Regions from separate parts of the Homo sapiens genome. Here all the other regions are linked to region 2. Evidence: fine-mapped expression QTL. A gene starts in region 2. Each other region holds a variant in brackets. All regions are shown on one strand. Distances are from middle to middle.

Evidence for each region.
Region 1: its variant is fine-mapped to the expression of RPS6KA5 in whole blood (INTERVAL, PIP above 0.99).
Region 3: its variant is fine-mapped to the expression of RPS6KA5 in whole blood (INTERVAL, PIP 0.92).

What each region holds. Positions count from the first base shown.
Region 1 is chr14:90,942,225-90,945,070 of GRCh38, forward strand. RPS6KA5 (ribosomal protein S6 kinase A5) reads right to left here. Exons shown (of 17, transcript NM_004755.4): 5 at 854-961. Among named protein-coding and RNA genes, the nearest start is that of LINC02321, 120 kb to the left of the region's middle. The variant C/G (reference allele first, on the strand shown) is at 1,180.
Region 2 is chr14:91,059,287-91,061,786 of GRCh38, forward strand. It overlaps RPS6KA5 (ribosomal protein S6 kinase A5), which reads right to left and starts at 1,355. Exons shown (of 17, transcript NM_004755.4): 1 at 1,046-1,355. The coding sequence starts at 1,148. It also overlaps a transcript of DGLUCY not described here. RefSeq lists silencers at 808-877, 948-1,077, 1,448-1,507, 1,728-1,857 and an enhancer at 1,085-1,665.
Region 3 is chr14:91,124,948-91,127,790 of GRCh38, forward strand. The region is part of intron 1 of DGLUCY (D-glutamate cyclase); the gene reads left to right. It overlaps SNORA11B (small nucleolar RNA, H/ACA box 11B), which reads left to right and starts at 1,479; the gene lies at 1,479-1,605. The variant C/CTTCTT (reference allele first, on the strand shown) is at 1,457.

The DNA.
Region 1 (2,846 bases), 120 kb before region 2:
ATATACTCCAAAAACCAATCAGAAATAGATATACCTAATTTGGAATCCAAGAATGATGTCTTTTATAACAACAAAGTCCTTCACTACAAAAATTTTAGTATGATTTCATATTCTATACCAACAATTTCCTAGATAGAAACGAAACTAACATTCAAATTTACTTAGTTATCTTGAATAACTAGTAGTGCAGAAATAAATGTAACTTCTATTACAACCATTACATAAACAGTACTTAATTACAACTAATAGATGTACAATTTTAAGTGTCATTAAATGCATTTGTAATATTAAACAAATTCTAATTAATACTGAAAATTAAAGTTCTCCAAATGTAAAATCTGCACATTAGCCACCATATTTTAATTCATGTTGAGCAAAAACCAGCAATATTATTTAAAAATTGGGTCTAGTAGATCTCTGTCATTCTTGTCAAGCGAATTCAAAGGGCCTTCATAGCATGTCCTACTTTGTTACCACAATGTAAACTGTATGTACTTTGCTTTATGATTCTTTATTGGCCACTATCAAAGCCATAATTCTCCTGAAGGGCCAAAAGAGTTATTTGATTTTTCAGTTATATTTTACATATTTTATGGGGAAAGTTAAATGCATAGTGTCTTTTTTCTTTTTTAAATAAATAGGAATTCTGATATACCCATCAAGGTTTACCGCAATTTTAACAGGACGGCTCCATACGAATTTTAAACTAAAAATCTCTACATTTTCCATGGACAAATCTGCACAAAAGTTCAGAATTCACAGGGCAGTTTTCTGCTAAATGTTTATTCTACGGCTAAGTTTTCATCCTTGTTTACATGCTGTTATTACTAACTTCAAATTAAAATATACTCACTTCATCAGCCACAAACTCCTTACTCAGACCAAAATCTGTCAGCACCACATGGCCATTAGAATCAAGTAGAATATTCTCAAGCTTAATATCACGATATATAATCCCCAACTGCAAAAACAAAGAAATATAAATTTTAAAATAATTTACAAAAAAATGAATTAGGGCAGTCTTTCTCGTCTACCTTTATTTATTTATTTTTTTTTTTAAGGCATTTCCCTCCTCAGGATCCTGTAATGGCTCTTGGTGATTGGTCAGGGAAAATGGAAATTCTTTTATCTGCTGCGTTCTCTGGACCTCTCCAACCACGTCTTTGTTCTCCTTGTGCA[C/G]AGGGTCTACCTTGTTGGGTCAGCTTCTTTAGGGCCTCCCTCTTGACTCGTGCTTCTTCATGTCTCTATTCTTCCTAGTTCACTCTCACTCTAGATGACCTTCAGGTGCCTTCATAGCCAATTCTTGTCCATCACTTCCTAACGGCTTCAGAAGACTCTCCTGACTAACCAGATCCCCTGTCATTTCCTTGTTTTTCATCCTACAACACCTATGTTTACATTGTACTTACCTATACATGACTGATATTTTCTAGCTATTTCCTACTTGTCTTTATATACCTATACTCTAACTCTTTTTTTCACTTTTTATGTATTTATAGGTATTTGTGCAGCACACCATGTATAAAATAGGAAATTTATAAAGAATTGTTGATTAACAGGCTCTTAAACATAAAGGTTGAAGATCATAGGTTAATTTTACTCAAACTTTAGTTGTTTTTTGTTGTTGTTATTGTTGTTGTTGTTTTGAGATAGGGTCTCACTCTGTCACCCAGGCTGGAGTGCAGTGGCGTGGTCCTAGCTCACTGCAACTTCAAACTTCTGGGCTAAAGCCATCCTCCCACCTCAGCCTCCAGAGTAGCTGGGATTACAGGTGTGAGCCACTGCACTAGGCTCAAACTTTAGTTCTAAATAAGCAAAGAAAATCAATTAAGTAACATTTATAGATCCCTCTGTTTTACTTTGCATTTATAAAACTTACTTTTTTGTAAGTTCTATAGCAAAACACTTCAGCTATATAACAAATAATCTATCCAACTCATATAAGAGGTGCTTGATCTGCATGAATTCTGTTTCATGTTTTCAGTTATGTCAGCCTGAATTAAATGTTTCTAAACTTAGAAATATTGTTTTCCTCAATGCTAAGAATATGAGAAAGTTCTTAATAATCTCTTAAAATGGAAATCAAAATTGCATACAGAAAAACACTAGGGGCCAGGCACAGTGGCTCATGTCTGTAACCCTAGACTTTGGAAGGCTGAGGCAGGAGGGTCACTTGAATCTGGGAGTTCAAGACTAGCCTGGGCAACACAGTGAGACCCATCTCTACAAAAAATTTTAAAAATTAGCTGGGCCAGGAGTGGTGGCTAACGCCCGTAATCCCAACATTTTGGGAGGCCGAGGTGGGCAGATCACCTGAGGTCAAGAGTTCGAGACCAGCCTGACCAACATGGAGAAACCCCGACTCTACTAAAAATACAAAATTAGCCGGGCGTGGTGGCACATGCCTGTAATCCCAGCTACTCGGGAGGCTGAGGCAGGAGAATCACTTGAACCCGGGAGGTGGAGGTTACGGTGAGCTGAGATCGTGCCACTGCACTCCAGCCTGGGCAACAAGAGCAAAACTCCATCTCAAAAAAAAAAAAAATTAGCTGGGTGTGGTGGCACACATGTAGTCCTAGAGCTACTCGGGAAGCTGAGGCAGGAGGATCACTTGAGCTCAGGGTGTTTGGGGCCACAGCAACCTATGATAGCATTCCAGCCTGGGCAACAGAGCGAGACCATATGTCTATTTTTAGACCCAATGTCTCTATTTTTTTTTTTTTTAAAAGAACAGAATAAAAAACGGACAAGTGTGGGTGGCCCATGCCTGTAATTCCAGCAGTTTGGGAAGCCAAGATGGGAGGATCATCTGAGCTCAGGAGTTTGAAACTAGCCTGGGCAACATG
Region 2 (2,500 bases):
CCGAGATCATGCCACTGCACTCCAGCCTGAGCAACAAGAGCGAAACTCTGTCTGAAAAAAAAAAAAAAAAATCCCAATATGCCAAAGCAGCTCTGTCAAAAACCTTCAACGCTCACAAACATATCTAGTAATAACGAACGACTCATTAAAATGTACTATCTGTTCAGAGAAAAAAGTATTAATATATCTACAATACGAGACTGGGCTCCAAGAATATAAATCCAAATTGTACTGATTGGTCTGAATAAGCATTTTCCAAAATGAACAACCTGAACCTACACCACGAATACATTTAATTAGTTATAAAGCTTAGGACAACGCTAGTGATCTCAAACATTAGAACGTAAGCGCTGAAGCCTGCTCGTTAGTTCCTTTTACCTGGAGCTTTAAATTTCTAAAGCCATCATCTCCAGGGACCTCTGAAGGAAATTCAAGGCCAAGTATAGTATTTCATGATAAGTGAGAATAAAGGCACTCAATCCCTGGAGCCGGCGATTCCTGTTCCTGTCTCTAGACTGGACTCGGTAAAAGCCCGAGGCGAAACCTCCCGTTTATCTCCTACAGGACCCCAGCACCTTAGGGGATGGCTCCACAGAGCCCCACCGGGACCCCCCATCGCGGGGACCAGAGGGGCGGAGGAGGGAGACACTCTCCAAAACAAAGCGCCGCTCGCCCCACGCGGAGGCAGGCGCACCTTTCGCCCTGACAGGACGCAGACACACGTGTGTCACCTGTGCGGGAAGGGGGAGCAGCGACATCCTCGGAGGTGCGTGCCACGGGCAGCGGTCGGCGGCTGCGCTGGCCCCGATGCCTGGTGCCCGCCGCTCATTCCCGGGCTGGGGAAAACTTTCGGCCGCCTCCCCCAAGGCGCGCCCCCACCTCCCGGGACCCCCGGGGCACGCGCCCCGACCGCGACGCCCCGCCCCAGGCCCGCCCCTCCGCGCCCACGGCTGCGGCCCCGCGCCCCCAGCCCCGCGCGGGCACCCGCGTGCCCTCAGGCGCGCCCCCGCGCCGGGCCCGGCCGGCAGAGGGCGGGGTCGCTCACCAGTCCGCAGCTCGTGCTTGACAGTGAGGAGCTGCTCTCCTCCGTCGCCGCCGTCCGCGCTGGTCCCCGCGGCGCCGCCGCTGCTGCCACCCTCCTCCTCCATCTTCTCCTTTTTTTCCGATCCCGCGGGTCGCTACGAGGGGAACCCAGGAGACAGCGGACGCCCGTCCCCTCGCAGCCGCTGCCGCGGCCCCAGGAGTCGGGGTGCGGCGGCTCCAGAACTCGGACGCAAAGACGAGTCTCTTTCCCGCTCTGGCCGCACGGCTCGCTCCTCGCCTCCTCCCCCTTCGGCGGGCACCGCTAGTACCGCGCAACCAAACCGCCCCCTGCTCCACCGCCGCCTCCTCAGGCCGCTCCGCCCACAGCCAGCAAGGTAAGGGAGCCATTCGAGCCGCCTTCGCTGATTGGACACAGGGCGCGCGCGTCTGCCAACGCCGGTTCCCATTGGGCAGTACGCTGTGACGTTTCACGAGCCTCCCCGCCTCGCTCCTCGAATTGTTGTTGCTTGGCGGGGAGGCAGGAGAGGGAGGAGCGCCGCCACTCCGATTGGTGAGACCCAAAGCTCTGCCCCGCCCATTTCCTCTGGTGCGCACTCGCAGTCAAGACCTTCCCTTCCCTGACCTCCCCAGAACGGTCACACCCCTTATTCCCCAGCTTCGATCTGTTAGTAAACAGTGTCTAGTAGTCAGGAGGCGCTCGGGGTCTCTGATTGGCTACTGCCGAAAGAGGCGGGGAGGGATGATTGGAACGTTTGGTCCGCCAATCACCGTGGACAGAGGAGGGGCCTGGAGGGTAGCGCTTATCACCCACGTGTTTGCAGACAAACCTAAGGGTCCCGGCAGCGATCCATGCGTGTGTGACAACCAGCGAGACGGCGTGCCCTAAAAAGGTCTTACTCGCTCTAGTGAACCCTAAACAAGTTAAGCAGAGTGTTTGTTCTTAAATAACAGATAGTTCTTAAACGTTACAAAAATTCACAGTCCCAGCTCCCGATGAGGAATTTTACGAAGGAGAGACATTTCTGTTTCGTACAAGACTCTTACTAGGCGCCGAAAGGATGCAGAGATTAACAAAATAGAATACAATTCCTCCCCTAAGCAGCTTTCAATAGAACGTGAGAAACAATCTGTGTGTGTACACAAAAGAACTATAAAGCAGAATTTGAAATAAAGCAGTCGTACAAAGCGTTAGAGAATCTCGCACGGATGGCAATAATTATTCCCAGACGAGGAACTGGGGAAAGCTTTTAGGGCAAGGAGGCATTTGAGATAACCAACGTAAAGGATGGATAAGAGAGAAATACCAGCAATAGACATTCCACACAGAGAGAGTAACTGTGAGCATTGGCCTACAGCAGAGAAGGCAAGGGTGGGTTAAGTGATTGATAAGGTTAGATGAAAGTATGATGTAAGAGATACAGCTGACAAGGTGAGGTGTGGTAAGATAATGGGGAAC
Region 3 (2,843 bases), 66 kb after region 2:
GTTCCTCTTCCTTATTTGAAGGTGTTTTTACCTTTCTCAACATTGCACAAGTTACTTCCTCCTTCCTTTGTTCTCCTCTGCCTTTGCCTCTTTTAAAAGGTTCTAAGTTGCCAGCCAATTGGGACAAATACAGGATCTGAGGTCCCATTCCAGCCAATGGAAACTGGACACAGCAGTAGGGTGGACGAGTCAGGTTATAAATGACCCTGTCTCCTTTGTTCTATATACTCATGGGGCACAACTACTGGCGAGTGTACCCTTTCTGCAGAAAGTGTAAAAATGGCCTTGCTGAGGAAATTAAATTTATGTTCAAGTACTATTTCTTTACGGCACCGGGGAACAAGCATTTCAAACACGTACTTGCTGCAGACTCTGCCCTCTGGAATGGCTGCGATCCTGTCTCAAATGGATTTGAGCAGAAAAGGGGAAGTGACTGGCAGAAAAGCCCAGAGATAGATCTGTGTTTAGGTAAGGTTGTTTGTCCAGAGATAGAACTGTGTTTAGATAGGGTTGCTTGTAGGGCCAGGGATGACAGCGTCAAGCCCTGCCTCTTTTTACTCTTGGCTCTCTGCTTTCTTCTCTGTTGGCTTCCTTCTCGAGCCAGCTCTCTCTGTGGGGTGACAAATGACCACTGGCAGCCTATGCTCACATTGTCCCTGTGTCTAGCAGTTTCAGAGGTAAGAAATACTTCTTTCCCGACAGCTATACAAATACAAAGGTTAAGGTTGGGCACAGTGGCTCACTCCTGTAATCCCAACACTTTGGGAGACCAAGGCAGGCGGATCACCTGAGGTCAGGAGTTCAAGATCAGCCTGGCCAAAATGGTGAAATCCTGTCTCTACTAAAAATACAAAAATTAGCCGAGCCTGGGCTACTCAGGAGGCTGAGTCAGGAGAATTGCTTGAACCGAGGAGATAGAGGCTGCAGTGAGCCGAGATCTTGCCACTGTACTCTAGCCTGGGTGACAGAGCAGGACACAGTCTCTAAAAAACAAAACAAAACAAAACAAATTCAAAGGATAACTCTGGTTGGCTAGCTGGGGTCATGTGACCATCCTCAACCCAAGCATTGTGCTAAGGAGGATGGGCTATTTTGATTGTCACCTAGGTCTGAGATAGTGACTGACAGCCCCACTGGGTACTGGGGGACACTTTTCCAATTTGCTGGGCACGTAATGGTTTCTTAGGGCTGCCACAACAAATCCCAACTTACTTGGTGGCTAAAAGCAACAGAAATCTCTTATCTCACAGCTCTGGGGGGTAGGAGTTCTACGTCAATGTATTAGGGGGACTATATTCCCTCTGATGCCTCTAGGGAATGATCCTTCCTTGCCTCTTGCAGCTTCTGTGGCCCCAGGAAATCCTTGGAGTTCCTTGGACTGTAGCTGCGTCACTCCAATCTCTGCCTCCATCTTCACAGGATGGCCCCTTCTGTGTTTCTCCTGTCATGTCTGTGC[C/CTTCTT]TTCTTATAATTACATGTGTTGGGGTGTGCTCAGAGCAGGGGGCCCGAAGAATGCCTCCTCTGTTTACAACACACCCAATAGGAATCTGGGGTCATTGTGACAAGGGACACAGAGCTTGTGACCTCCCTACAAACAAATGCCCTACACATTGAAAAAACAAAAAACGTGTCAGACCAGGTGCGGTGGCTCAGGCCTGTTATCTCAGCACTTTGGGAGGCCAAGGTGGGAGAACTGCTTGAGCCCAGGAGTTTGAGACAAGCCTGGGCAATATAGCAAGACCCCATCTCCACCACACACAAAAAAATATGTTACTGGTTTTAGGGTCCACTCAATTAATCCATAATAATCTCATCTCAAGATCTTTCACTTAATTGCATCTACAAAGACCCGTTTTCCAAATAAAGTCATATTCACAGGTATGGGGTGAGGGTTGGGACTTGGATTTATCTCTTTGGGGGCCACATTCCACCCCCTGTAGGGCAGAAATAAATAGCCACTGCACTCCACCCCTTGACTGCCTGGCATCCATCCATGGCCTTTTCCACATAAACAATTCCAGAAATGCAACACCCCAGTGTGGTACAGGCTGCCCACATCCAAGCAAAGCTGGCCGATGTACATTCTTCTCAGTCAGGCCTTGATGATACTCTTTTTTTTTTTTTTTTTTTTTGAGATAGAATTTCCCTCTGTCACCCAGGCTGAAGTGCAGTGGCACAAGTATGGCTCACTACAGCCTCAACCTCCCAATCTCAAGCCATCCTCCCACCTCAGCCTCCCAAGTAGCTAGAACCACAGGCATGTGCCACCATGCCTGGGTATTTTTTAAATATTTTGTAGAGACAGGATCTTGCTGTGTTGCCCAGGCTGGTCTTGAACTCCTGGCCTCAAGCAGTCCTGCCTCACCCTTCCAAAGTGCTGGGATTACAGGCGTAAGCCACCATGCCAGGACCTTAGTCCATTTTCTGATAACTCTGTGAGCTGCCAACTGGAGCTAGAAACTCAAGTCAAGTCATGCTGTAGAATCTGGACCTTGTCCTCGCTGCACCTGCCCCCTCTACACCCCGTTCTCCCTGAGTCTTCCTTCAGACTGCAGCCTTCTGGCCTCTGCCCCAACACACTGGGCCTGGGCCAGAGGGATGAGGCCGGGCTGTCTGGCCCTTGCCTTCAGGCTGTTTGCGGTTTGGCCAGGCAGGGAACGCCGGGCAGAAGTGGCTGGCAGGGAGCCAGGGGAAACTGCTTCTTCCGGTTTCTGTCCCCTCTCACACTGTGTCGTCCTTCTCCCAGCCTTTACCTGTGCTCCTAGCCTGGGGCAGGGAATCTGACTTTTGCAATCCTGAAATATGATTTTCTGGTTCTCAGCTCAGCTGAATTACTTGCCCCAGGCAG